Homo sapiens: one gene and its partners. The protein of the gene in region 3 interacts with the protein of the main gene of each other region in a biochemical or structural test. Each region holds a gene or a part of one and is shown on either strand. Other genes may lie near its edges.

Region 1 (3,454 bases), on a different chromosome or scaffold from region 3:
GGGGCCCTCACGGCTGCTTCTCGTTTCTCACACTTCCAGATCGATCCTGTCCTCGGTACCGTGGGCTTTGGGTCTGGCCTCCACGGGTGGGCCTTCACCCTGAAGCAGTTTGCCGAGATGTATGTGGCCAAGTTCGCCGCCAAGGGGGAGGGCCAGTTGGGGCCTGCCGAGCGGGCCAAGAAAGTAGAGGACATGATGAAGAAGCTGTGGGGTGACAGGTGAGCCCCGCGGGATATGGTGGGGGATTCCTGACACCTGGGGGTAGTGGCAGCGACGTAGGGGCGTGGTGTGCTATTCACAGCGTGGCTCAAGCCCACCAGGTCTTGCCCAAGCATGTCCCCTTGGCGACCACCCTCCCCAAGTCATCCCCTGGAGACCCTAACTTGATTTGGCTTGGCCTCTCCTTGCCAGGTACTTTGACCCAGCCAACGGCAAGTTCAGCAAGTCAGCCACCAGCCCCGAAGGGAAGAAGCTGCCACGCACCTTCTGCCAGCTGATCCTGGACCCCATCTTCAAGGTGAGTGAGGGCTGCGCCAGGCACCCCGCCGATGCGACTATTGGCCCTCGGCCCTGTGGGCTCCGGCCGGTAGCCTGTCGGCTGACTGGGCCCGTCTCCTTGTGGGGCAGATGCGAGATGGGAGGAGGCACAGCTCCTAACTGAGGTGGAGTCAGGGCTCCTCTCTTAAGATCTGGACTGCATAGCCAGAGCCTTGGGACCTCTCCTGCATTGAGGGGGTTGAATAACTTGTGGCTTTGGCGGTTCAGTGCTTGTAAGTCAGAACTTGGGTCCTTGTCTGAGTCAGAGTGGGCTTTTTCCTCTGCTCCACCACGAGGTTTCCTCCAGCTCCCGATCCGCTCAGCTGGCTGGGCCCGTGGTAGGCAGGCCAGGCCTGCTCCTGCTCCCGTGCTGCGTCCCCCTGCGCTGACCTGAGTCTTCCAAGCAGGAAGCAGTGCCAGGCTTCCTCCTGCTGTTCCCAAATGGGCTTTCTTGTTTCTTGGTGGGGAATGTAGGTGTTTGATGCGATCATGAATTTCAAGAAAGAGGAGACAGCAAAACTGATAGAGAAACTGGACATCAAACTGGACAGCGAGGACAAGGACAAAGAAGGCAAACCCCTGCTGAAGGTGCGGCCTGGGCCCAGCCCTCGGGGTGGAGGGAACACAGGCTGCTGTTTCCGGATGCTCTGACAGCCCAGGCCTGGGGGCTGAAGTCCTCAGCTGGGCAGGGACAGCTGCTGCCCCTTTCGCTTTAGACTCTGGGTGCTGCTGGAGACACATCCCAGCAGCCAGCCCCATCCGGGACAGGTGTGGGTGAGGGCCTTGGCAGGAGTGTGCATGGCCTTTGCCGCCTTCCAGAAGGGACTGTGCTTTGGAGAACGTTAGTCCTGACTTTGGCTTCCTTGGCTTCAAGAGAGGAAGCGTGTACGGGGTGGGGCCATCCTGGGCTCCCCAGGTGTCTCATGCACCGCTCTCTGCCCCCGCAGGCTGTGATGCGCCGCTGGCTGCCTGCCGGAGACGCCTTGTTGCAGATGATCACCATCCACCTGCCCTCCCCTGTGACGGCCCAGAAGTACCGCTGCGAGCTCCTGTACGAGGGGCCCCCGGACGACGAGGCTGCCATGGGTACGTGGTCCCGGTGGCCGGGCCCTGAGATGCAGCCGGATGACTTCCTGTTGCCCAAGGTTGTGGGTTGCAGGGTTCCAGAAGGCTGAGCTGCACTGGAATAAAGCTTGCGGGTTTTCTCTGTCCCTCAGGCATTAAAAGCTGTGACCCCAAAGGCCCTCTTATGATGTATATTTCCAAAATGGTGCCAACCTCCGACAAAGGTCGGTTCTACGCCTTTGGACGAGTCTTCTCGGGGCTGGTCTCCACTGGCCTGAAGGTCAGGATCATGGGGCCCAACTATACCCCTGGGAAGAAGGAGGACCTCTACCTGAAGCCAATCCAGAGGTGAGCAGCTGGGTGATGTGCAGGCCCCTTGGCACTGTTGCGGGCCCTGCCCTGCTCCAAGTCTTGGGCTCCTCAGTCGGGAGCTAGAAGTAAGGAGCATAGAAGGAATATAGGGTGATACTTGTGCCAGCCACAACTTTTGTTCTTAGCCCAGTGAGGGCATTTCTGGAGAAGCTCCAAGCCCCAGGGCACAGCACACCCCTGCTCATCTGTGTCCCTGGGCACAGGTGGGTGGCGGCCGTCGACCCATACCCAGGGAGGAGGGCAGTGATTCTGAAGAGGATGTTTCCTGACAGCCCCGACGCAGCAGTCAGGGCCTTGTGGAAGCCACCAGTCTGCCCTGGGACCTGGCAGGAGGGCCACCAACTCCGGGAGGGACCTGCCCTGGCCCTCCAGGGTCCAGCACAACCATCCCTGCGGCCTGCTGCCGCCTTCTGCTTCTTCCAGAACAATCTTGATGATGGGCCGCTACGTGGAGCCCATCGAGGATGTGCCTTGTGGGAACATTGTGGGCCTCGTGGGCGTGGACCAGTTCCTGGTGAAGACGGGCACCATCACCACCTTCGAGCACGCGCACAACATGCGGGTGATGAAGTTCAGCGTCAGCCCTGTTGTCAGAGTGGCCGTGGAGGCCAAGAACCCGGCTGACCTGCCCAAGCTGGTGGAGGGGCTGAAGCGGCTGGCCAAGTCCGACCCCATGGTGCAGGTGGGCACGGAGTGCACCTGCTGGGAGCAGACACCCTGAGGGGGGACGGCTTGTGTCCTGAGTTGTGGCTGTGTGGGTTGCTGTGGTTGGTGGATTGGGGTGACTGGTCATGAAAGGAGGGGTTCTTGGCTGTGGCTGTAAATGGAGACTCCTGCCCAGGCAGCCACCACCCTCTCCTAGGCTGCTCTGCGCGTGTTCACTGTAGCTTGTGGGACTTAACATTTCTTCAGGAGTTTGTGCTGGTCCCAGTTTCCCAGCACCTTCCCTGAAATCTTGTTCTGGCGGGGTCCCTAGCTAAAGGGAAGCTGGGAGCCTGGTCCCGCCTGTTCCGAGCCGCCTACCCCTTTGGTGCTGACCCGCATCCCTTTCAGTGCATCATCGAGGAGTCGGGAGAGCATATCATCGCGGGCGCCGGCGAGCTGCACCTGGAGATCTGCCTGAAGGACCTGGAGGAGGACCACGCCTGCATCCCCATCAAGGTGAGGCGCCAGTGACCAGCCTTCCCCACGCCCCACCCCGGACACCTGCCCTCTGCTTTAAAGCTGAGCTGAGCTAGGCTCTGCAGACGCCTAGACTTGATCTCGGTCTTGGTCTCAGCTTCTTAAGTTCCTCAAGTTTCTTCTTTGCAGTCTTCCACAGGCATGTGGGGCTGTTTTTGTTGTTGTTGTTGTTTTTTTTGAGATAGTCTCGCTGTGTCATCCAGGCTGGAGTGCAGTGGCGTGATCTTGGCTCGCTAGAACCTCCACCTCCCGGGTTCAAGCGATTCTCTTGCCTCACTCAGCTTCCTGAGTAACTGGG
Region 2 (4,066 bases), on a different chromosome or scaffold from region 3:
TCTCCTGCCCCAGCCCCACCACCATCTCTGTTTTCCATTTCTGCAAACTGTCTGTTTCCCAGAATCTCCCTGCTCCACCTCTCCACTTTCTGAGTGCCCCTATACCTGGGAGGGCACAGCACTGCCTCCAGAAATTCCTCAATCTTGTTGGTGTCTGTGTGCACTTCAGTGCCATACAGCAGGAATGGGAGCTGCCCCCCTGGGCACAGCTTCTGCACTGTCTCGGTCCGCCTGGAGAAAGGATCAGGAATCAGGACTGGAAATGGGGGTCAGGAAGAACCAGAAAGGGGGAATGGAGGACGTGGGATAAGAAAGGGACTCCAGGGGGAGGGCAAAAATGTTCATGACAGAAGGACTCGGGTGGGTGTGTGTTTGCACACATGTGTACACCAGGGGTGTTTCAAGGAACATAAGCAGGCCTACCTTTTGGTGTCAACGGTGGTAACATTGAAGGTGACTCCCTTGAGCCACAGTACCATGAACAGTCTCTGGGAGAATGGGCAGTTCCCAATCTTGGCCCCATCACTGCCAGCCTGAAAAGTAACCCCAACCCAAGGTTATGCCTGATGCACCCCACCCATCCCTAGGCCAGTCCCTGCATTCCCACTCCCAGACCAGCTGTTTTCTGCCTAGTCATGACACATACACTGTCCCCTCACTATGGGCTCTTTGCCCTTGGGCCTGGGTCAAACCTAAGGCAGATCAATGGGAAACTGTTTTGCAAAGGCAGGCTTCTGGTTCCCCAGACACTGAGGACAGGTGGGAGGTAGGTAGAGGGAGGAGGTCCTGGAGAACTTGGGAGGATCTGAATCCTAGAGAGGGAAGGGTGTGGAACTTCAGTGAGGCCAGAGTTGTAGGCTAGAAGCCTGGATTTCTGGGTTCCTGAAGGGAGTAGAGTCTGAAGACAGGAGAGGTGGGTGGGGTTTGGGAGCCAGAGTTTTGGTTCTCTACACCTCCAATCCAAGGTGTCTTTGGGTGGGGAGTCTAGTCAAGGGGCCCTGGGCCTCGCGCTAGAGATGTGGAGGGCCCTACAGAGAGGGGCTGCCCTCTAATTAGCAAGTGGTGACCTCATTGGCCCAAGGGACACCTCCCCCTAAGCTGAGGGTGATTCATCTCTCTGTCTCCGGCTTCCTTCCTGTCAAGGATGTGGGGGAAGGGACAGTGAGGATGAGGCCTGGGCAGCTAAGGCTACCCCTAACCTGCTGCCAGGGTCTCCCAGCACAAGTCCTCTGACTGCAATAACCATCCTCTCACAGGACACAGGGCCGGAATCTCTGCGGCACAGCCTCACCCACGAGTAAAAATAGCCCCGGAGGCGAATGTGAGAGTGAGGTGGGGACCACACCTAAGGGGGCGGACCCAAGCAGGCTCCGACTTCCCTGGGCCCAGGGAGAGGGAATGGCTGCCCGAGAAACCCAAGCAGAAGGGAGAGGGAGACACAGGCAGAGACACACAAAGATGAGAGAAACAAAAGGGGGGAAGGGGAAAGAAAGGCGGCAGGAAAGTGGAGAGTGGGGAGACGTGCGTGCCAACGGAGAGACACAAACGGAGCGGGGAGAAGAGGACACTGTTAAGGAAGGGAGGGAGGGGCACAGCCAGGAGGTCCCAAGACTGGGAAATGAATGCAGCAGCGGTAGGGAGGGGAGCGGCCGCTGCAATCAGAGGGGGGCTGGGTGACACCGAGAAGCCTGCTGCCTGCAGTTTTGCTACCCAAATGCCATAGGACCATCTCTCCTTACCCACACCCGCAGAGAGAGGAGAGAGTTGGGGCAAGTCTTCTACTTCTCCAACCCCCAAATCCCAAAATGCCCTAACCGAGCTCTTCTCCTCCGTCTGATCTCTCTCCCACCCATCCTTGTGGTAGCTACGTTAAACTCACGTCTTCTTGCCACCTCCCCTTCTGTCCCTTTCCCCAGTCCTGGGGATATTCAATGCCACCCGATCACCTCTCCAGCTCTGCTTTTCAAACTCCGATCCCAGTCTCCTGTTTTGTTCCGCCCCTCCAAAGCTTCCCAATTTACTTGCTCTCACTCTCAGGCCTCCCTCAACACACCGTCTTCCCTGAAGCGTCTCCATCCACACACACACACACACACACACACACACACACACACACACACCTCTCCTACTGCACTACTCACCCTCAGATCTTGTAGGGACACATGTCCTAACTGAGGTTCCCCTCTGTCCCTTCTAAACCCTGCTGGGCCCCCACTGTCCCTTCACCAGCTCGCCCTCTAACCCCACCCCAGTCTCACTTTTGGGAATTCTCCTTTTTCTCCACTTCCCTTCCTTTAGTCTGCTAGAAACTTGCACTTTTACAAACTTTTCAGGGTTGATCCTAGAATTCTCATTACTTGCTAACAAGTTAATGTCTTCCCCTCTCAAAACCACCCCTCAACCAAAGAGTGCACGTGGGATTGGGGGTGGGAGTCAAGGAGGGAAGGGATTGGGGAGTTAAGGCTGGACCGGGGGAAAGGTGAGAGTTGGCTTCCAGGAATTTGGGTGGCTGAGGAGAGAAGTGTTCTTACCTTCACGAACAATTCGACCTGCGGTTGTTCTTCAGCCATGGTTGCGTCGGGGACCAGGAAGTGGCCGTCCCTGGGGGAACTGGGAGGGGCTGGGACCGGGGAAGGCGGGTCTCACACTCAGGGACTCTCTCCCCTAGACCCAGGGCTGTCCCTTCAGCACAACACAAGCTCAATCAGACCTACTTGCACCCAAACTAGGCCTCCCCACCAGCCCAACGCACCCCACACCCAGCTCCTCCAGCTCGGTCCTCTCCCGGGCTGGATCAGAGAGCCGCTGACTCACCGACCGGCCCCGCCCTGAACCTGGGGAGGGGACTGGAGGGGGGCGGGACTCGACGATGTAGGGAGTGAGTCCGGAAGGGGAATCCTCGGATCTCCCACAGGATGGGGATGGGGGTGTTAAGGAGGAGTCCTGAAAACCTCCTTGTTTCTCCGACCTCTCCTGAACACAGGACTCTTTTCTGCCTCAGTTTCCCTGCTTCATTAATCTGAGTACAACCCGACTGACCCTCATATAAAAAACTTGACACTAACAGCTTGGGCACACCCGTGAAGATTCAGGGATGGGGACTTCAAATGGAAAGGTGGTCGTTTAATCATTCTGCATTTCTTCCAGACTCCAATCCAAATTCTGGGTTGCTGGGACTGTGGTCTGAGAGAAGAACTCGGAAGTGGAAGGCTGGGACTGCAGATAGGAACCGTTAGCCATGCAGCCTGGGATTAGGGAAGGGGTGACGCCAGCACTCCCTGAGCTGCCCAGACTGGTGTCTCAGTAGGTCCTGTGCCCCCCGCAGTCTACTGTCTCCGGGCCCAGCTCAGCACTAGGACTTGCAGTCCTTGTGGCCTACACTTGGGATTGGGCATAGGAAATAGAGTTAGGGGCCGGGTGAGGTGGCTCACGCCTGTAATCCCAACACTTTAGGAGGCCAAGGGGGGTGGATCACCTGAGGTCAGGGAGTCAAGACCAGACTGGCCAACATGGTGAAACCCTGTCTCTACTAAAAATACAAAAATTTGCCAGGCGGGGTGGTGGGCACCTGTAATCCCAGCTACTTGGGAGGCTGAGGCAGGAGAATCAATTGAACCCGGGAGGTGAAGGTTGCAGTGAGCTGAGATGGTGCCATTGCACTCCAGCCTGGGCAATAAGAGCGAAACTCCATCTCAAAAAAAAAAAAAAAAAAAGAAGAAGAAGAAAAGAAAAAGAAAGTAGAGTTAGGGATGGGAAGGGAGATGACGAAGTCTTTTGCGAAGGAAACATAAAGCCGAGGCAAGGGGCTTTGTTGCAGGGAGGGGTCTGTTCCTGTAGCTTGGTCAGCTTTGTGCTTCCACTTATGTTTCCTATTGGGGCCCCTTCCTGTGCCCTTTGTCCTCGTCTCACTGACAGGTTGCCTTGGAGATGGGGCAGAGGGGTGGGATTATCATGGCCCGATCCTGAAGTATGTGTATAGGGGGTGGGGTAGGGGTGTTGTTAGCTGGTCCTGTCATGGGGATAAAGAAAGATCAGACAGAATAGTGGGAGTAGAGTCCTTGGGGAC
Region 3 (3,500 bases):
TGAAATGAAAATAAATAATCCTCTACATTAGCGGTAGGTATAGAGAGCTGTCACAACTTCCTAACTCATCTCTCACCATCCGGTCTCTACACTGTCCAATAATTACAAAAAAAGGGAACTTCTAAACTGCAAATCTAATAAACTAGTCTATCTATTTAAAACACTGTCAGTGATCTTCTGTTGCTCTTAGGATAGAATCTAATCAGGGCTTCCGATATCCTGCCTAATTCTTTTTCAAGGCTTACAATATCCTGCCTAATTCTACCATCTCTTCCAGTGTGCACCATCACTCTATACTTACTGTCTTGAGAAGGTTATGTTACCTTTTGCCTTCAAGCCTGTGTGTGGGTTACTTCTTCCTCTTGGACCACCCTTGCTTTATCCCCATCTCTTCCACTCTTGCCCTCATCTGGCTCATTTCTATTTAAACTTCAGGTGTTAATTTAGCTGACAGCAATGCTACCTGGATTTCCAAAGTCTGGAGTATATGTCCCACTTTTCTCTTCCATGGCACCAGGTATTCATCATTACCCAACGAAATATCACACTAGACTATGGCAGAAAGGGGGCAGCAACTATGCTAACCACTACAGAGCAGTACCTAGCATGTCTATCATTTCATATTATTCAAATTATTCATATATATTCAAAATATTCCTTCATATTATTCAAATAGTTAGATCTTTCTTTCTCTCTCTCTCTGAAAACCTCCTTATTTTGGAGCTGCAAAGAAAAAAGGAAGATAACTTCATAACTATTCATTTGTGGGCTCAAAATGTCAGAATAGAAGAGGTACCTTGTATAATACCATGCATGTCAGACAGTAAAGTTAAAGTGACATAGTTGATCTCAAATACATCATTCTACATCCTTAATCATAGAATGACATTTCAAAAGTTTCAACTATTAATCTGTGGCATAAAAGACAGAATAATAAAAACAACAAATCAGACTCATAAAGTGGGAGATTATAAAACTCACAACCTTAGAGGAAGTAGGCCACTAAAATTACACGTTAAAAAAGAAAGTACATCACCCTTCCCGTGGTGACACATGTTTTAAGCAAATCACAAGTGAGCCGTAAATCACTTACAGGCTCACTTTACAATCTCATCTGTAAAAAAAAGCACCGAATCTAACAGAAGTTTATTCTGAGAAGGTAGTGTATTACCTCTTTCATCAAATAGAACAATGATTCTCATTAATGGGAAGATATTAAATGTGAGATTTTCAAACAACATGAGGTTTTCTGTTCTTTCTACAAATAATTCTTCCTCTAAGCAGGACATATAAGTAGAATGGTACATACTTTCATGGCTTGATGAAGCTTCTCTGCAAAGAAAGCTGGTTTGCTTGTGGCGCACTTCACTGTTAGAGAAGAAAATTTTAGTTGATGTATTTACCATGAAAAAAATGAAATATCCATATGAAAGAAACAGGAAATATAGAATTTTGCCAACAGTGTTCTATCCCTCATCATCATTCTTCACCTCTCATCTCCCAATATAGGGCAGTTAACTTCTGAGAAGGTATTTGTGACTCTCTAGATGGTGGTTTTGAATATTCTTTTCCCTGACGATCAATTTTTTTATTACCTTAAATACATCTCAAGAGCAACTTCAGTAGTTTGCGCTATCCAACATATATTCTCCTTGGGAGTGGAGAAGCCACTAGGTGTTCAAGCCTATGTAAATACTTTATTTATGTTACTATAAGAACATTTAAAAAGAACACCCTATGAACAACAGACACTGCAGACTACTAGAGAGGGCAGGGAGAGAAGGGGCATTGGTCAAAAAACTACTTATTGGGTACTATGCTCACTGCCTGAGTGCAGAACACCCATGGAACAAACGTGCACATGTACCTCTGTGTCTAAAGTAAGAGTTGCACAAACAAATAAGTAAAAATAAATGAATAAATGAAGAAAAAACTCTGGGATAGGATGGGCTTAAATATAAAACAGAACCCAAATAATACTAGCACATTCCAGTTCATAGTGTTCTTCATCTTGTCGAGATCTATGGACCAACAGCATTGGCATCAATGGGGAGCTTGTTAGAAAAGCAGAATCTAAGCTCCACCCCAGACCTGGGGAATCAGAATCTGCATTTTAACAAGCTTTCCAGGGGATTCAAGTGCATAGTCATGAATGAGAAACACTGCTTGAGAACATAGGTTCCCCAACCCTGATGGTTGTCTGAATAACCTGGGAGATCTTTAAAAAGTACCGATTTTTAGAGGCCAACTCGGACCCACTGAATCAGACTCTCCTGGACCTGCCCAAGATTGTACAATTAACAAGCAGTAGACCAGGACTTGAAGTTACATTTATCCAGATGTTACATTTATTCCAGATCCCATGCTCTCAGTGACCATTCTGAATTGCCTCTGTGGTGTGCCCAGCCTGGTACATTGTTTGATATAAGTAGGTGCTCAATAAGTATAGTCTATCTCTCTCTATTTTTGAAAAGGGGAATAATATCTATTGTTATTAAGGTTATAGTACTTTGCCAATCTTTTACGTTGCTTCAATTGAAACAGATGCACTACTTCTGATTGTTTTTTGTTTTCTTTTATTGGTTTTGTTGCTGTTGTTCTTGTTAAGTATAGGATAGCTTTGAAAATACAATTTCTAGTTAGAAAACTCTTTCAACTGCTGGACTACATACCGATAGCTGTGAGGCATTTCTCAATGTCACCTTTCAACTCCAGGTCCAGAACTTTGTTCATGTCATGCTTACTGTACTTGGTGTATTTCTGAAACACTGAATATTAAATTCAAACTAAGATACATGCAAAACATCCTTTTCTTTAGAAAGCTTTAGCAAAATCAAGGCAACTGACTCAAAGAATTTTTTAGAATAACAACTTTGGCTACACCTTTTAAAGCAATATACCCAATTAATCATAACGTGAATACTTCATCCTCTCCTAGGAATGTAACTTACCTGGCCATTTTGGTATTCCTATATATTTTGGCGAAATGTTTGCAAATGTTGACAGTTATTAGAAACGGCATGTGATTGACAACTATAGCACTTCCTACAGCAGTTCTAAGAGCCACAGCAAATGGATCTTCCCTTATATAAAGACCTGTGCACTAAATTTCTCTTACATTTAACAGTAGAAATCAGTATACTATTATAAGATGGTGAACTTTGGTAATTGTCATAACTTTTCCATCGCCTTCACTTCCAAGAGGCCCAGAGCTAAATCTTGCACTCAAAGGCCAGGACTTTTTCTGAGTTTTGTCTTGTTGTTGTTTTTCCAAAGCACCTACATATTTCTTTCTTCATTTAGCTCTGAGGGTTTTTTGTTTTTTTTTTTTTGTTTTTCTTCATTCTAATTTCATTTGTTCTGTTATGCATGTCTTTTCCCACACATATTCCAAATCTTTTAGGGGAGTAAAAGCAGTGAAAATAACAAAATTATGTTCCACATGCCCAAGTCACAAAATGTATTAAATATGATAAAGTAGCGGCTGTACAAAATTGGAC
Region 4 (4,242 bases), on a different chromosome or scaffold from region 3:
CTGTGCCTCAGTTTCCTCCTCTGTAAGGGGAGATAATAGTACTTTTCTTAGAGGGTTGTTGTGAGGATTAAATGAGGTAATACATGGATTGCTTATGACCAAGCCGAGGAAATGTTTGACATGCATTAGTATTTTGTAGATTGTTCCCCGAATTTGTCCAATAATTGATTTAGCCCAGTGGTCCCCAAACTGTTCCATGATAGGAGTCGTCGGAGTGGCCAGGCGTGGTGGCTCACACCTGTAATCCTGGCACTTTGGGAGGCCAAGGTGGGTGGATCACTTGAGGTCAGGAGTTCAAGACCAGCTTGGCCAACATGGAGAAACCTGTTCTCTACTAAAAATACTGTAATCCCAGCTCCTCGGGGGGCTGAGGCAAGAGAATCTCTTGAACCTGGGAGGCGGAGGGTGCAGTGAGCCGAGATTGCGCCACTGCACTCCAGCCTGGGCGACAGAGTGAGACTCTGTCTCAAAAAAAAAAAAAAATCACCTGAGGAGGGCTCTTCCTAGAAAAATCGGACTCAGTGGGTCTGTATGGAGGCCCAGAAATCCTGTTTTTAATCAGCACTCCAGGCCGGGAGCGGTGGCTCACGCCTGTAATCCCAGCACTTTGGGAGGCCGAGGCAGGCAGATCACCTGAGGTTGGGAGTTTGAGACCAGTCTGACCAACATGCAGAAACCCCGTCTCTACTAAAAATACAAAAAAATTAGCCAGGCGTGGTGGCACATGCTTGTAATCCCAGCTACTCAGGAGGCTGAAGCAGGAGAATCGCTTGAACCCAGGAGGCGGAGGTTGTGGTGGGCGAGATCGTGCCACTGCACTCCAGCCTGGGCAACAAGAGCGAAACTCCATCTCCCAAAAAAAAATAAAAAATAAAATAAGCACTCCAGGCATTTCTTATCCTCAGGGAAGCTTAGAGAGTACCGTGTATCATACTCTGTGAAACCCATGGAAGCTCACATTGGCTCCCACCTCTCCACACACACTCCTGCTCCCAGACTGCACTTAAAAACACCTGCGCCTGGAGGTAGCAGCCGCCTGAGCTACAGAGGAGGGCTTGAGAAGAGGGGAGAAGTGGAGACTCAGGGGACCTGGTGGCAGAGAGTTTCAAGCTGGAAAGTCAAGCCTGGCTCAGTCCACACAGACCTGCTGCTCTGTGGATTTGAGCAAGTTAATGAACCTCTTGGGGCTGATCCCCCACCTAGGGGCTGCTGTGAGGGCGCAGTGAGATCTCGAGGCCCACACATAGGAGCTGATTTTAATAGAGGAGGGAAGTCTGATCCTACACAGATTCCTGAGGAAAGGGAGACAGCAGGGGGTGGAGAAGGGCTGGAAGGGGGTAGTGGGAGTCCAAGTTTTTGGCACCAAATCAAAGGCACCTGGGGGGTGGTGGGGCTGGGAGCCGGGGGCCAGCTGGCCTGTCTGTCTCCCTGACCTCTCCCTGTTGCCACAGACCTTGTGGCCTGAGGCTGGACTATAGGTGTTTCCAGTGGCTGTCCAAGTTCATGAAGGTGTTAGTGTTTATTGGTGAACTTGAGGATGTTTGCATCCTTGGGGGTTGTTTCTGCTATGGGAGAAAGGGGATTTGTCCACCTGGTTCAGGTGGGAATCTGAGCCCAATGGGTGACCCTTCCGAAGAAAACTCAGATGGTCCTCCTCTCCCAGCACTCCCAGCCTTGCACTCTCTTCCCCTCCACTGTAGGGGTGGGGTCCCCCGGTTGGAGAAAAGCCTGGGGGCTAGCTGGGTGCTGCCCCCAGCTCCTCACTGCGTCCTCCCACTGAATCCCGAGAGGCATGCGCTATAAACCCACTTTACAGAGGGGAAAATGAAGCCTGAGGCCACGGAGCAGTGATGCGCAGGGCAGGGGTTCAAGTCTCATGAGGCTGGTAAGCCTGTCTGCTCCTGTGTCTTCCAGGGTCTCCTGGACCAAAGCCCCAGCCCCACCTACCCCTGCGGCCCCCGCCCTTGGGAAGTGAGGGAACAGTGTGGGAATGGAGGCAGCCCACCGGAAGACCTGGTTCCTCCGGCTAGAGTGAGTGAGTGAGTGTGTGTGTGTGTGTGTGCGCGCGCGCGGGCGCGCCGCCCTTGTTGAGAGACTAAGGAAGTAGTTTGCCCTCTCTTAACCTCTGTTGGCCGCTCTGTAAACTGCGGGCACACTCTGGCCTTCTCAGGTGGTGGTGAGGCTTCCCTGAGCTCTCGCCTGCGAAGTGGTCAGCACGTCCCCGGCAAGGTTCCAAGTGTCCTTGTTTTGTGCATCACAGGGAGGGCAAAGCTCACCTCACGCGAAGCGCCATGAACATCACTTTTACATGGAAGCCCAGCACCCCTGGGTTCTCCCTAAGCCCCTCCTAAGCCCGCCCACTTCCCGCCACTTTCAGGCTGCAGCCTCCGATGGCCCTCGTTTCTGCTCTTTCTACCGCGTGATAGCGGCGCGAAGCCCACCCAGCCCTGGGGGCGGAGGCCCGGTCTCCCCGCCATGGCAGTAAACCCCACTCTGCCAGCACACTGGCGGGTGTGGAGGGAGGGAGAGCGGCTGATCCCCTGGTCCCTAGATGGTGCACACGCCAGGAAGGGCGGTAGGGATACGGCACAGGTGTGAGGGTGCAGACGCTCCCCACTACCCTTTCCACCCCTCCCCCGCGCCCTCCGCTGCCTCCCTCACCCGGGCACGGCTGTCGCAGCAACTGGACAACGGTGACATTGGTGAGGACGATGTCGCGCTTCGACATGGCCTCTTATAAGGTTATCATTGGCCTGGACCTGCTGTGATGTTACCGAGGTGCGTGCGGAGCGCCAGGGCTGTGGGTCCTGGGCTAATTGCCCTGATGTCACAGCACCCAGTGACGTCACAGTACCCAGTGACGTCGCCGAGGGGCGGCGCCCAAGCCAGAGGCCTGACACCATCGCATCCCATCCCCGTAGAGGCATGGGACGTCAGCACGCTATGCATCACCGTTCCACGGCCACGCACTGCCGTCTGGAATGGAATCCCACTTTTTAAAATTATCATTTGTTTATTTATTTTGAGACGGGGTGTCACTCTTTCTCCTAGGCTGGAGTGCAGTGGTGCAATCATGGCTCACTGCAGCCTTGAACTCCTGGGCTCAAGCGATCCTCCCGCCTCGGCCTCCTGAGTAGCTGGGACTACATGTGCAGCCACCACTGCAGGCTATTTTTACTTTTTATTTTTTTGTAGAGAGAGGGTCTCACTCTTTTGCTCAGGCTGGTCTAGAACCCTTGGGCTCAAGCGATCCTCCCACCTCGGCCTTCCAAAATGCTGGGATTACAGGAGCGAGCCACCACACCCAGCCTGGAATCCCACCTTTTACACTGTTCCTGAAAGCCCTTTCCTCTTCTCTGTCTCTTGAAGCACACAGGTTCCATGCTGTCCCTTGGATTCTCCAGTGGAGTGACTCTTGCTGCCTCCGTATGCCTGGAAGGCCCACCCAGGGCTTCCCTTGGCTGCCTCTTGGTTTCCCACCCTTTAAGAGAGGCTTTCTACACTCTGCATCTAAGTTCCCTCCTTTCTCTGTCACTGTCAGCCGTCACCCCCTTCCCAATTTCTGCCCATCTTCCAGGAAGCCTTGTCTGACTTCTCCATTCTGAGTTATGCTTCAGTGTGCAAAATTTCTCTAGGGCTACACTGTCTATGTTTTTATTTTCCTTAGAGCACATGTCTCTCTAAAAATTGTTTGTTTTCTTGCCAACTGTCTCTGTCCACCAGACTGTAAGCTCTGAGAGGACAGGGACGTCATCTATGTCACTTCTGTATCCCATTGACAAGAAAAGTGTTTGGCACCTGAAAGGTGTTTGTGGGCTGGACGCAGTGGCTCATGCCTGTAATCCCAACACTTTGGGAGGCTGAGGTGGGAGGATCATTTGAGTCCAGGAGTTTGAGACCAACATGGGCAATGTGGCAAAACCCTGTATCTACAAAAAATAAAAAAAGTAGCCAGGTGTGGTGGTGCATGCCTGTTGTCCCAATTATTAGGGAGGCTGAGGTGGGAGGATCACTTGAGCCTAGGAGGTCAAGGCTGCAGTGAGCTGTGATTGTGTCACTGCACTCCAGCTGGGAGACAGAGCAAGACCCTGTCTGAAAAAGGCGTTAGCCCAATAAACTATACCTGAATGAATAAATGTCAATTCCTCAGGTTTCATCTGATCGCTAATCTTTTCTTTTCTTTTCTTTTTTTTGAGACAGAGTTTCGCTCTTGTTGCCTAGGCTGGAGTGCAATGGTGCGAT
Region 5 (3,500 bases), on a different chromosome or scaffold from region 3:
ATGAGGGTCTGAGGAGCCAGTTTGAGAAGAGAGAGAGACAGAGAGCACACATGCACCTGGGGACCTGGGCCACAACTGCTGCTAGGGCCCACTGCCCGCGCCAGGGTCCTGGCGGAGGCCTCACCTGCAGCTTGGTGACCTTGTCGGCCAGCTCTGTGCGCACGCGCTCTCCCTCGTTGAACTTGACCTGCAGCTCCTGCAGCTGCGCCTCCACTTTCTTGCGCTTGTGCTCCGAGTCCCCTTTGCCCTGCAGCAGCACCTTCACCTCGTTGGCCAGCTCCCCCCGCTCGTTCTCCAGAGTCTGCTTTGCCTTCTCGAGGTTTGCTTTCACCTAGCAGGGAAGAAAGCAAAGACGTGAGTGGGGGCCTCCTGACACAAGGCTGGCTGGTCTATCATCACTGGACCCTAGATCCAGACATCGCTGCTTCTGCAGCCCTGACGACGGTGTGCCTGCGTCCTGGACTCAGACGGCTCGGGCCTCATCTGTCCTGTCCTCTTCTCTCTTAGCTGGTGGGTGACACTTGGTTCCTGTCTTCACTGCTTAGGACATCTCACAGCTTCCCCATCTCTAAAATAATACCTGCCCAGCCTTCTGCCCTGGGTAGAGGCCAGGTTCTAGGGCATGGCATTGGTGTTGCAGATGTTAGCAATATTTGTAACGCAATAAGGGGAACTATAATTGTTTGCAGTTAGACTTCCAATAAAGCCTGTCTGAAGTCTGATGTTCAAAGTAACGATGTAATGTTTTCACCCTCAAATAATCACGAGACAGACATACCATAATCCTCCCTTATGAACAGGGAAACTGAGGCACGAGTCACAAAGCCCCTTAGAAGGGGAGCCTGGCCTCAGAACCAGGCAGTTGGGTAGAACCCTGCAACTGCTCTGCAGGACTGGTTTGGATTCTGTGGGCCCAGCACGGGGAACCCTGCCCTCCCCCTGCGGTCTCAGGGAGGCTCCGCACCCGCTTCGTCTGCTCCAGCTGCTCCGCCAGCTCCTCCACGGCCTGTGAGTGCTTCTGCCTCATCTCCTGGATCTGGGCCTCGTGGGTCTTGGCCTCCTCCTCCAGGGTCTTCTTCAGGATGTTCACCTCCTGCTCACGTTTTGACCTGGACAGAGAAATCCCCTCAGAGTGGAGGCCGGGGATGCTGGAGCGAGGCTGTCCCTGGGGCTCTTCCCTGACCAAAGAGAGGCCTGGCCAGGGCACAGGCACTCCAGGCAGCTTTTCTACCCACCGGCCCCTCCTAGCCATCTATCCCATAGCCCAGGCTCAAATACGCCCTGTGAGAGCTTCTGTAGCCTTTCAGCTTTAAAGCCCAGCCTTGCCTCACCCCCAACTTTGAGCCAGGTCCTTCAACAGACTTTCTACTCTGTAGAGAGAAACCGCTGAGGAACCAGCAGCTTCCATGCCTGCTGGTGCCTAAGAGGGCCACGGTGTGTGTGTGTGTGTGTGTGCAGAGGCCCGGGGTCCATGTCTCCAAGCCAAGGCCCCCCTGGCTGCCCTCCCCATCCCGAGGGACTTGGTCCCAGGGCACACCTGAGCTCCTGCTGGGCAGCTGTGGAATCCAGCGTGTCCTCCAACTCTGTTTTCAGAGCCTCTAGCTCTTCCCCAAGGTCCCGTTTCTGCTTCTCAGCTTTATTCCTGGAAGCACGCTCAGACTCCAGGTCTTCCTGGAGTTCAGAGATCTGAGATTCCAGCTCCCGGATCTTCTTGAGGGCCATGTTCTTCTGGGCAGCTTCCTCTTCCACTCTGCCAAAGCGACCAGCAACATCAGTATAAGGAGAGTTTCACCTCCAAGGAGCAGAGTTTGCAGGACAGGCCTGAGAGAGCTGCAGCAGCCAAAGCTGCCTCCTGTGGTCACAATCATGGCACTTAGGATGGCTCTCAGCAGAAACAACATCTGAGACAACCAGATTGAAGGGCAACACCCCTCTGAGAAGCAGAAAACCTCATAGAGGAATCGTTTCAATTTCCAAAGTAAGATTCACTGCTTCAAATATTTTTAAAAGTCAAATGATGTGTTAAATGGGAAGAAAAGGAAATAAAACGCTACACCACAGGACAACTGCAACTCAGTAAAAATACGAATGTGCTACGGACTTTAGATGGTTATGACAGGTCAACGTAGGTTCACCAATTAGAACAGACACAGCACTGTGGTAGGGGATGTTGACTGCAGGGGAGGCGGTGCGTGAGTGGGGCAGTGGATAGATGGAGAATCTTCTGCTGACTCTTCTGTGAATCTAAAACTACTCTAAAAAATAAAGTCTCTTTCTTTTTTTTTTAAACAGAGTCTCGCTCTGTCACCTAGGCTGGAGTGCAATGGCACGATCTTGGCTGACTGCAACCTCTGCCTCCTGGGTTCAAGTGATTCTCCTGCCTCAGCCTCCTGAGTAGGTGAGATTACAGTCGTGTGCCACCACACTGGCGAATTTTTTATATTTTTGGTAGGGATGGGGGTTTCACCATGTTGGCCAGGCTGGTCTCGAACTCCTGACCTCAAGTGATCCACCCGGCTTGGCCTCCCAAAGTGCTGGGATCACAGACGTGAGCCAACGTGCCTGGTCAAGTCTTTTTTTTTTTTTTTTTTTTTTTTAAGTGTGCCTATAGCAAGAAATTAGGAAAGGACTATTGTAGGTGGGTGATAGAGCTGTGGATGACTTTTTTTCAAATTATAAACAAACAAAAGACAAATGAGGCCCCTCACCATGCCCTGAGTGCACAAGAACTGTTTTGCTATGAAATAAATGGCTCTTTTAAGACAACAGTGGAAAGAATGCTCACAGCTCACTAGTGCCGAGAACTAGGGCCAGCAGCAAGCAGGAAGGGCTGGCCCAGGCCACCTGGCCTCAGGCGGGCAGGCGGGGTCCTCACCTGGCCAGGGCGGCCTGGAGCTCCTCCTCTTTCTTGGCCAGCTGCATCTTGAGCTCCGCGATCTGGGCCTGGAGCTCGGCGATCTGGTCGCTGAGGTCTGTGGAGTCTCCCTCCAGCTTCCGGCGGGTCTTCTCCAGCTCCTGTCGCTGCTTCTCCTCCCTGCGGAGGCGCTCTGCAATGCAGGGGGAGCCCACATAGCCCTCAGTGCCATGGGTTCTGTCTCCGTGTCAATTACTTATACAAAATACTGAGCACTCGTTATGAAACGTGTGTCAGGCTTAAAGCATCACAAACACACAGACACTCGCACCCAACTCCTGGATGCAGGAAGAGGACATCACTGCAAACTGCTAGCCCCTGGCATGTCTCTCTCCAACTCACCCCTTGTCCTTCCCTGCCAGGAATTAAGTACTCTCCTAAAGCTGGTGTTTGTAATTCCCTTGGTTCCCTTGAAGGCTGTACCATGTCTGTATCTCTAAAAAACATGTTCAATTGTGTGTGAATCTGAACTTATATAATGGAACTGCCTTGTGTGAATTCCACAGTTGGAATCGCACGGTCAGGGCTCTATGTCTAGCTTTATAACTCTGTGATGTCACTTGGGAAAGCTACTTTCTATACCTCA
Region 6 (3,500 bases), on a different chromosome or scaffold from region 3:
TCATGAGTTTTTCATGGCCATGGATAAGATAGTTGAAACCTTTTACTCCCATATTCAGAATTTTGTTTCGTTTTGTTAACTTTTTTTAAGAAATGGAAGGTCCCAGATCTAGAAATGGATTACCTGTAAGATGATTTGCTATGAATAATAAAAATGGCACAATTCTTTCTTCTTGTAATCACTTTTATTCTGAAAGTGTAATTTGGCTTTTTTCCTTTTTCTCAACCTTCTTACGTACACTGCATGAATTATAAATACGAACTTTATATTACTTACTCAATTTTCATAGTCTTATTTCCTGCAATACCCAAACCACGTTGTTTGATGGTTGATCTCTAGTAGTCATTTTCTGGTTGATTTCTATCAATTATATTTTGGCTCTCTAAATTCTGAGTCACTTCAAATCGGAGTTATGGTTAAAGAAGTAACTGATGTAATTAGTTGAAACACTGTTCTCTCAGTAAATCTTGATTTTGTTTTACCATTCCTTTGGGAGCCTCCTCTGCACCTTAAAAGCTCAGCTTTCTATATAACCTGTTATATGCCTGTTTAGATTTTACCAGATTAGCATTGCCTTACTTATTTACCATTTGAAGTTAACTTTTCAAGTTACTGCCTTCCAATAGTTCTAAGTATTAATTTATTGAGTATTGATTAATCAAATATTACTTCTACTGCCCTTCCCTGTCTCTCTGTTCTAAATTGATGGTATGTTGGCCATTATACTTCAGTGACCATGTAGATAGTGGGCAATTTGAAGCTTTTTTTGAACCTTGTTACAACAAATCTTTAGAGCATTTTGACCTGTGATATTATATATGTATTATGTACCATTTTATTTTGGTTTGAGAAACAAATATGTAAGTGACAAAAATGATAGATCAGTATGTACTCTATGAATATGATGGGAAATTTGGGATAAATGACAACAGTGTTCCTGTAGAAAATCTGGAAATCCAGAGAGAAGAAAACAATTCCCAAACCCGGAAATTCCTAATAGTATTTCTGTCACTATCAATTTAAAGAAAACTATTTTGTGTATAGTTATTTTGTTCAGAGAGTAATGTAGTATTTTCCCATGTGTTAGTATTATTTTACCATCAGTTTTTATGGTGTTAAAATACATATAATTTCCATGTTTTAGTTATCTTGTTAAATTTTACCAGGTAAGTCTACTGTTCTTTACCCACCCTCATTATTCAAAATAAAAATGTTAGTTGCTTAGCTGTGTGTGTGTGTGTGTGTGTGTGTGTGTTTGTTTGTGTGTTTGTGTGTGTGTGTGTGTTTGTGTGTTTGTGACTACAGGTGTGCACCACCATGTCTGGCTAATTTTAGATGGGGTTTTGCCTTGTTGCCCAGGCTGGTCTTCAGCTCCTAAGCTCAAGCAGTCTGCCCACTTCGACGTCCCAAAGTGCTGGGATTACAGGCGTGAGCCACAGCCCAGTGCTTTGTTACTTTAAATGTAGCATATGTGAGTCCTTTTTGCACTAGGGTTGTTACCCTTATTGGGAGTTTTAAGTTTTCTGGAAAATCAATGACACCTGAAATGGCAGTATTTGGATCTGCTCTTTGTGAATTAACTATTTTTGAAAGCAAGTGAGGCATTATAAAAAATTTTAAACAGATTTGGGGATTTTTGTAAATCAAGTTTGAGAGTTTAAGAAGGACAGTTAGAGGAGGGATAGTTTGTTGGAAAGGAAGAAACAAGGAACCTAAAAACATAATGTAGAAGTTGAATTGTGAGTCACTAGAATTATGTAAAGCTACACTCTATCTGTAAGCTCTACTATAGTTGGTATTTGATTTTTATTAAAAACAGCATCACAATTTTAATGACCTATGCAGGGCTGTCTCTGAAATTGTTTTAGTTATTTAAAGTAAACACACATGGAAATTGACTTTTTATTTTTAATTTTTTGTATAGAGATGGGGTCTCTCTGTTGGCCAGGCTGGTCTTGAACTCCTGGCCTCAAGCTTTCCTGCCACCTCCACCTCCCAAAGTGCTGGGATTACAGGCATGATCCACTGTGCCAGCCTGCAGTGTTTTTTTGTCTGTTTGTTTTGAGACAGAGTCTTACTCAGTTGCCCAGGCTGGAGTGCAGTGGTGTGATCGCGGCTCACTGCAACCTTTGTCCCCCAGGTTAAAGTGATTTTTTGTGCCTCAGTCTCCTGAGTAGCTGAGATTACAGGTGTGTGCCATCAGCTCTGCTAATTATTTGTATTTTTAGTAGAGATGGGGTTTCACCATCTTGGTCAGGCTGGTCTCGAACTCCTGATCTCAAATGATCCTCCCAGCTCAACCTGAAGTTTAAGCAGGACTTTATTTATTTATTGAGATGGAGCCTCACTCTGTTGTTGCCCAGGCTGCAGTGCAGAGGCATGATCTTGGCCCACTACAAACTCTGCCTCCTGGGATCAAGCGATTCTCCTGCCTCAGCTTCCCAAGTAGCTGGGACTACAGGCGCCAGCCACCACGCCTGGCAAATTTTTGTATTTTACTAGAGAAGGGGTTTTACCATTTTGGCCAGGCTGGTCTCGAACTCCTGACCTCAGGCGATCTGCCCACCTTGGCCTCCTGAAGTGCTGGGATTACAGGCGTCAGCCACCGCACCTGGCTAAGCAGGAATTTCAACTGCATCCTGATTTACCCAGTAGATACATGCTTAGGAATTATGATTTTTTTTTTTTAGTACTTTTAAGTTTAATAGGTCTTTTTAAAATAAAACAGGTGGCTGGGCACGGTGGCTCACGCCTGTAATCCCAGCACTTTGGGAGGCTGAGGCAGGTGGATCACGAGGTCAGGAGTTCAAGACCAGTCTGGCTAACATGGTGAAACCCCGTCTCTACTAATAATACAAAAATTAGCCAGGTGTGGTGACACGTGCCTGTAGTCCCAGCTACTCGGGAGGCTGAGGCAAGAGAATTGCTCTGCCGGGAGGCAGAGGTTGCAGTGAGCCAAGATCGTACCACTGGACTCCAGCCTGGGCAACAGAGCAAGACTCCATCTCAAAAATAAAATAGGTTATATTTCATATTTTTATTTTTTATTTTTTTGAGACGAGTCTCGCTCTGTCGCCCAGGCTGGAGTGCACTGGCGCGATCTTGGTTCACTGCAACCTCCGCCTCCCGGGTTCAAGCAATTCTCTGCCTCAGCCTCCGGAGTGGCTGGGATTACAGGCACCCACCACCACACCTGGCTAATTTTTTTATTTTTAGTAGAGATGGGGTTTCACCATCTTGGCCAGGCTGGTCTTGAACTCCTGCCCTTGTGATCCACCCGCCTTGCCTCCCAAAGTGCTGGGATTACAGGTGTGAGCCACCGTACCTGGCCCTGGGGATTATATTCCTACAGTAAATGATAAGTTTTGTTTGTGGCTCACACCTGAAGTGAGAGGATCACTTGAGGCCAGGAGTTCGAGACCAGTCAGGGCATTGTAGCCAGACCTCGTCTCTGCTAAAAATAAAAATTAAAAAATTTAAAAAAATTAGCCAGGTGCATG
Region 7 (3,500 bases), on a different chromosome or scaffold from region 3:
TAATTCCCAGCACTTTGGGAGGCCAAGGCGGGTGGATCACGAGGTCGGGAGTTCAAGACCAGCCTGGCCAAGATGGTGAAACTCCGTCTCTACTAAAAATACAAAAAATTAGCCAGGTGCCTGCAATCCCAGCTACTCAGGACGCTGAGACAGAGAATTGTTTGAACCCGGGAGGCGAAGGTTGCAGTAAGCCGAGATCACACCACTGCACTCTAGCCTGGGCAACACAGCGAGACTCTATCTCAAAAAAAAAAAAAAAAAAAAAACTGGCCGGGCACAGTGGCTCACACTTGTAATCTCAACACTTTGGGGGCCCAAGGCAGGCGCATCACTTGAGGTCAGGAGTTCAAGACCAGCCTGGCCAACACGGCGAAACTCTGTCTCTACTAAAAATTCAAAACCGCCCAGGCACAGTGGCTCATGCCTGTAATCCCAGCACTTTGAGAGGCCGAGGTGGGTGGATTGCTTGAGGTCAGGAGTTTGAGAATAGCCTGGCCAAAATGGTGAAACCCCAGCTGGGCGCGGTGGCTCACACCTGTAATCCCAGCATTTTGGGAGGCCGAGGCTAGCGGATCACAAGGTCAAGAGATCAAGACCATTCTGGTCAACATGGTGAAAGTCCGTCTCTACTAAAAAAAATACAAAAATTAGCCGGGCATGGTGGTGCGCGCATCTGTAGTCCAAGCTGCTCGGGAGGCTGAGGCAGGAGAATCACTTGAACCTGGGAGGCAGAGGTTGCAGTGAGCAGAGATCGCACCACTGCACTCTAGCCTGGCAACAGAGGAAGACTCAGTCTCAAAAAAAAAAAAATGGTGAAACCCCATCTCTACCAAAAATACAAAAATTAGCCGGGCATGGTGGTGCGCTCCTGTAATCCCAGCTACTCCGGAGGCTGAGGCAGGAGAATCGCTTGAACCCAGGAGACAGAGGCTGCGGTTAACCAAGATTGCGCCACTGCACTCCAGCCTGGGTGAGAGAATGAGACTCCATCTCCAAAAAAAAAAAAGAAAAGAAAAGAAACACGTACTTGCTATTTCAGCTACATTACATGAAACACAAAGGCGGTCCACAGAAAAAGCAAAACATAAATCCTAATACAGTGCCGCCTGCCCTAAGGAGCTCAAAGTTCTTTAGATATGCTAAATAACTAATCCTCATTACACCCTTGTGCTGCCATCAGAGGGATTTTAAAGGTAAGAAAAACACCCCACAACGCAAAAACAAAAGCCAGGCACCCCATGTTGGCTGTTGGTCTCTACACTTCTAAGCAAACCCGTAGACAGACACCAAAGCTTAGGGTGGGTGAGAAGAAAGGTAAATGGGGAGTATCCTGAAGCCAAGCACAGAGATGAACACAAAACCATCACAACTCGGAGTCTGAATTTCAGGCAAAGATGAAGACTCCAGGCTCTCGACAGGGCTACAATTTGAAAAGGTGGGAAAGGGCTGGGCGCAGTGGCTCACACCTATAAATCCCAGCACTCTGGGAGGCTGATGGGGGAGGATCACTTGAGCCAAGGAGTTCAAGACCATCCTGGGCAACATAGTGAGACCCTGTCTCTAAATTTTAAATATAAATATAAAAAATTTAAAAGTGGGAAACAAAGGAGAGTAGAATCAGGATCTGACCCAAACCCCCGGCTAGAAGTGTTATTCCTAAGAACGCACCCAGCAGGAGGTCTGCCACTCGACCTGGAGTTTCGACCTGGAGTTTCCTGAGGTATCGGGGTGGGGGCGCTGAGGGAGCTACATGGGGCAGAAAGAACCTAGCATGGGAGTCAGGACTTCCCTGGCCTCAGGGACACACAGCAGCTGTGGGCACAGCACTCCTCCTAAAATCCCGGAGCACCCACCAGCCCCTCAGCCCACCCCTGGCACCCTGTGCTCCTGCCACCTTCCCAGCCTGCTGAAGCCTTGATACCCCCAACCATTCCCACACTCCAATCACCAGGTAAGGGGAAGTGCAGGCTCCAAAAGGCAACAAACGTTTAAAATCGAGAATCAACTGAACAGAAGATACAAGTTCCCCTCTGCCAACAATGTTTCAGGAAAAAGCGTGCAAAGCTGGCAGAAAGTCATGTCTGAATACAGAAGCATGGTTCCAAGCTCCCTGTGTCTCTGGGGTCATCCCCGCTCCTGAGTGCCCACGAGTCACTGGAACTCGCCTCTCCCACCCTGGTGCTGGGCATCTCACTGCCTCACACTCTTCTTGGTCCTCTTCCCAATTCAAGTCTCCAGGGCGCTATTTAAAATAGGGCTGCTTCCTACTCACATGCTATTTCTTCTATGCGTCTTGGCCAGACCCTTACAACCCTGTCCCAAGCACAGAGCTCATCTTACCACACAGCTTCAGCCCCCACTTCTACACGGGAACACCCACCTCAACCTATCCCACCCACCCGGAAATTCTCTCGTGACAAAACTGCACATACTGCTTTTCAAGACGTTTCAACCAGCTCAGCTTTCAAGCTAAAGTCAGGAAGGTTCTGAAGAAGGAACATGCTGCCAGAATCAGCAAATGTGGTTTTATAATCTAAGTCTGGGACATCATGTGGCCTGGTAAAAACTGTTCATTTCTGGGGTTTTTTGTTTGTTTGTTTTTGAGACGGAGTCTTACTTTGTCGCCCTGGCTATAGTGCAGTGGCGCAATCTTGGCTTACTGCAACCTCCGCCTCCCAAATTCAAGTGATTCTCCTGCCTCAGCCTCCCAAGTACCTGGGATTACAGACACGTGCCACCACACCTGGCTAATTTTGTATTTTTAGTAGAGACATGTTTTTCCATGTTGGTCAGGCTGGTCTCGAACTCCCGACCTCAGGTGATCCACCTGGCTCGGACTCCCGAAGTGCTGGGATTACAGGCGTGAACCGCAGCGCCCGGCGTATTTGATTTTTTTAAGAGCCAAGGAAATGCCATTTAATCCTTCACTGACAGCCTTTCCAGGAACTCTTCTACTACAAAATCTTGACACAGATTGTTACCAAAAGTAACAGTTCATTTTAAGAGGAAAGAGAAGTAATAGTAAGTATCTGGCACAAAATATGTTCACCACCAGGACACTTCAACTTGTCATAAAAGAAAGTGATCCTGACCTTCAGAGGAGCCAGACGGAAAACACTGTGAAGAGAACCAGGGTGTCCCAGAAGCAGTGACCACCAACCTTGGCAAGAAAAATTCAACCCGAGCAAGGACTTCCTTCCTTCTCTCCATAGCCACCATGACACATTTCCTAAACTGGTTTCTAAGGAACACACATTATGCAGAAGCATGCAAAAGAAGACATGCAAGGAGAGCATTCTTTTCTAAGAGTCAGCACTTTTTAGGAATGTACAGTCAAAAGGACAAAATGAGCTTTTAACTGTGAAGGTTATTTAAGAAATGCAAAAGCAGACTGACCAATTCTGATGCTGATCTTCACTCGTCTGCACGAAAATCAGTATAACTTTATGTTTAATTTTTATACTGAAGTTTAAGCAGAGTTTAAAATTTAGTGTTCAGTT

What was found.
Region 1: the proteins of ANXA1 (region 3) and EEF2 interact in a test that uses a peptide from one of them, tested with the Homo sapiens proteins (one large-scale study listed by BioGRID).
Region 2: the proteins of ANXA1 (region 3) and CLIC1 interact in a test that uses a peptide from one of them, tested with the Homo sapiens proteins (one large-scale study listed by BioGRID).
Region 4: the proteins of ANXA1 (region 3) and GAPDHS interact in a test that uses a peptide from one of them, tested with the Homo sapiens proteins (one large-scale study listed by BioGRID).
Region 5: the proteins of ANXA1 (region 3) and MYH9 interact in a test that uses a peptide from one of them, tested with the Homo sapiens proteins (one large-scale study listed by BioGRID).
Region 6: the proteins of ANXA1 (region 3) and G3BP2 interact in a test that uses a peptide from one of them, tested with the Homo sapiens proteins (one large-scale study listed by BioGRID).
Region 7: the proteins of ANXA1 (region 3) and AP2A2 interact in a test that uses a peptide from one of them, tested with the Homo sapiens proteins (one large-scale study listed by BioGRID).

What each region holds. Positions count from the first base shown.
Region 1 is NC_000019.10:3,979,010-3,982,463, reverse strand, and holds part of EEF2 (elongation factor 2), read left to right. Parts: intron 1-39; coding exon 40-218; intron 219-411; coding exon 412-517; intron 518-1,011; coding exon 1,012-1,125; intron 1,126-1,484; coding exon 1,485-1,623; intron 1,624-1,754; coding exon 1,755-1,950; intron 1,951-2,397; coding exon 2,398-2,656; intron 2,657-3,027; coding exon 3,028-3,135; intron 3,136-3,454. UniProt on the Homo sapiens protein: Catalyzes the GTP-dependent ribosomal translocation step during translation elongation.
Region 2 is NC_000006.12:31,733,731-31,737,796, forward strand, and holds the start of CLIC1 (chloride intracellular channel protein 1), read right to left. Parts: upstream 2,801-4,066; 5' UTR 2,571-2,800; coding exon 2,532-2,570; intron 534-2,531; coding exon 424-533; intron 232-423; coding exon 106-231; intron 1-105. UniProt on the Homo sapiens protein: In the soluble state, catalyzes glutaredoxin-like thiol disulfide exchange reactions with reduced glutathione as electron donor. Reduces selenite and dehydroascorbate and may act as an antioxidant during oxidative stress response.
Region 3 is NC_000009.12:73,165,365-73,168,864, reverse strand, and holds part of ANXA1 (annexin A1), read right to left. Parts: intron 2,769-3,500; coding exon 2,673-2,768; intron 1,369-2,672; coding exon 1,310-1,368; intron 1-1,309. UniProt on the Homo sapiens protein: Plays important roles in the innate immune response as effector of glucocorticoid-mediated responses and regulator of the inflammatory process. Has anti-inflammatory activity.
Region 4 is NC_000019.10:35,532,014-35,536,255, reverse strand, and holds the start of GAPDHS (glyceraldehyde-3-phosphate dehydrogenase, testis-specific), read right to left. Parts: upstream 2,801-4,242; 5' UTR 2,729-2,800; coding exon 2,662-2,728; intron 1-2,661. UniProt on the Homo sapiens protein: May play an important role in regulating the switch between different pathways for energy production during spermiogenesis and in the spermatozoon. Required for sperm motility and male fertility.
Region 5 is NC_000022.11:36,293,968-36,297,467, forward strand, and holds part of MYH9 (myosin-9), read right to left. Parts: intron 3,048-3,500; coding exon 2,876-3,047; intron 1,751-2,875; coding exon 1,538-1,750; intron 1,110-1,537; coding exon 965-1,109; intron 332-964; coding exon 125-331; intron 1-124. UniProt on the Homo sapiens protein: Cellular myosin that appears to play a role in cytokinesis, cell shape, and specialized functions such as secretion and capping. Required for cortical actin clearance prior to oocyte exocytosis. Promotes cell motility in conjunction with S100A4.
Region 6 is NC_000004.12:75,663,412-75,666,911, reverse strand, and holds part of G3BP2 (ras GTPase-activating protein-binding protein 2), read left to right. Parts: intron 1-3,500.
Region 7 is NC_000011.10:932,370-935,869, reverse strand, and holds part of AP2A2 (AP-2 complex subunit alpha-2), read right to left. Parts: intron 2,346-3,500; exon of another isoform or gene 2,273-2,345; intron 1-2,272. UniProt on the Homo sapiens protein: Component of the adaptor protein complex 2 (AP-2). Adaptor protein complexes function in protein transport via transport vesicles in different membrane traffic pathways.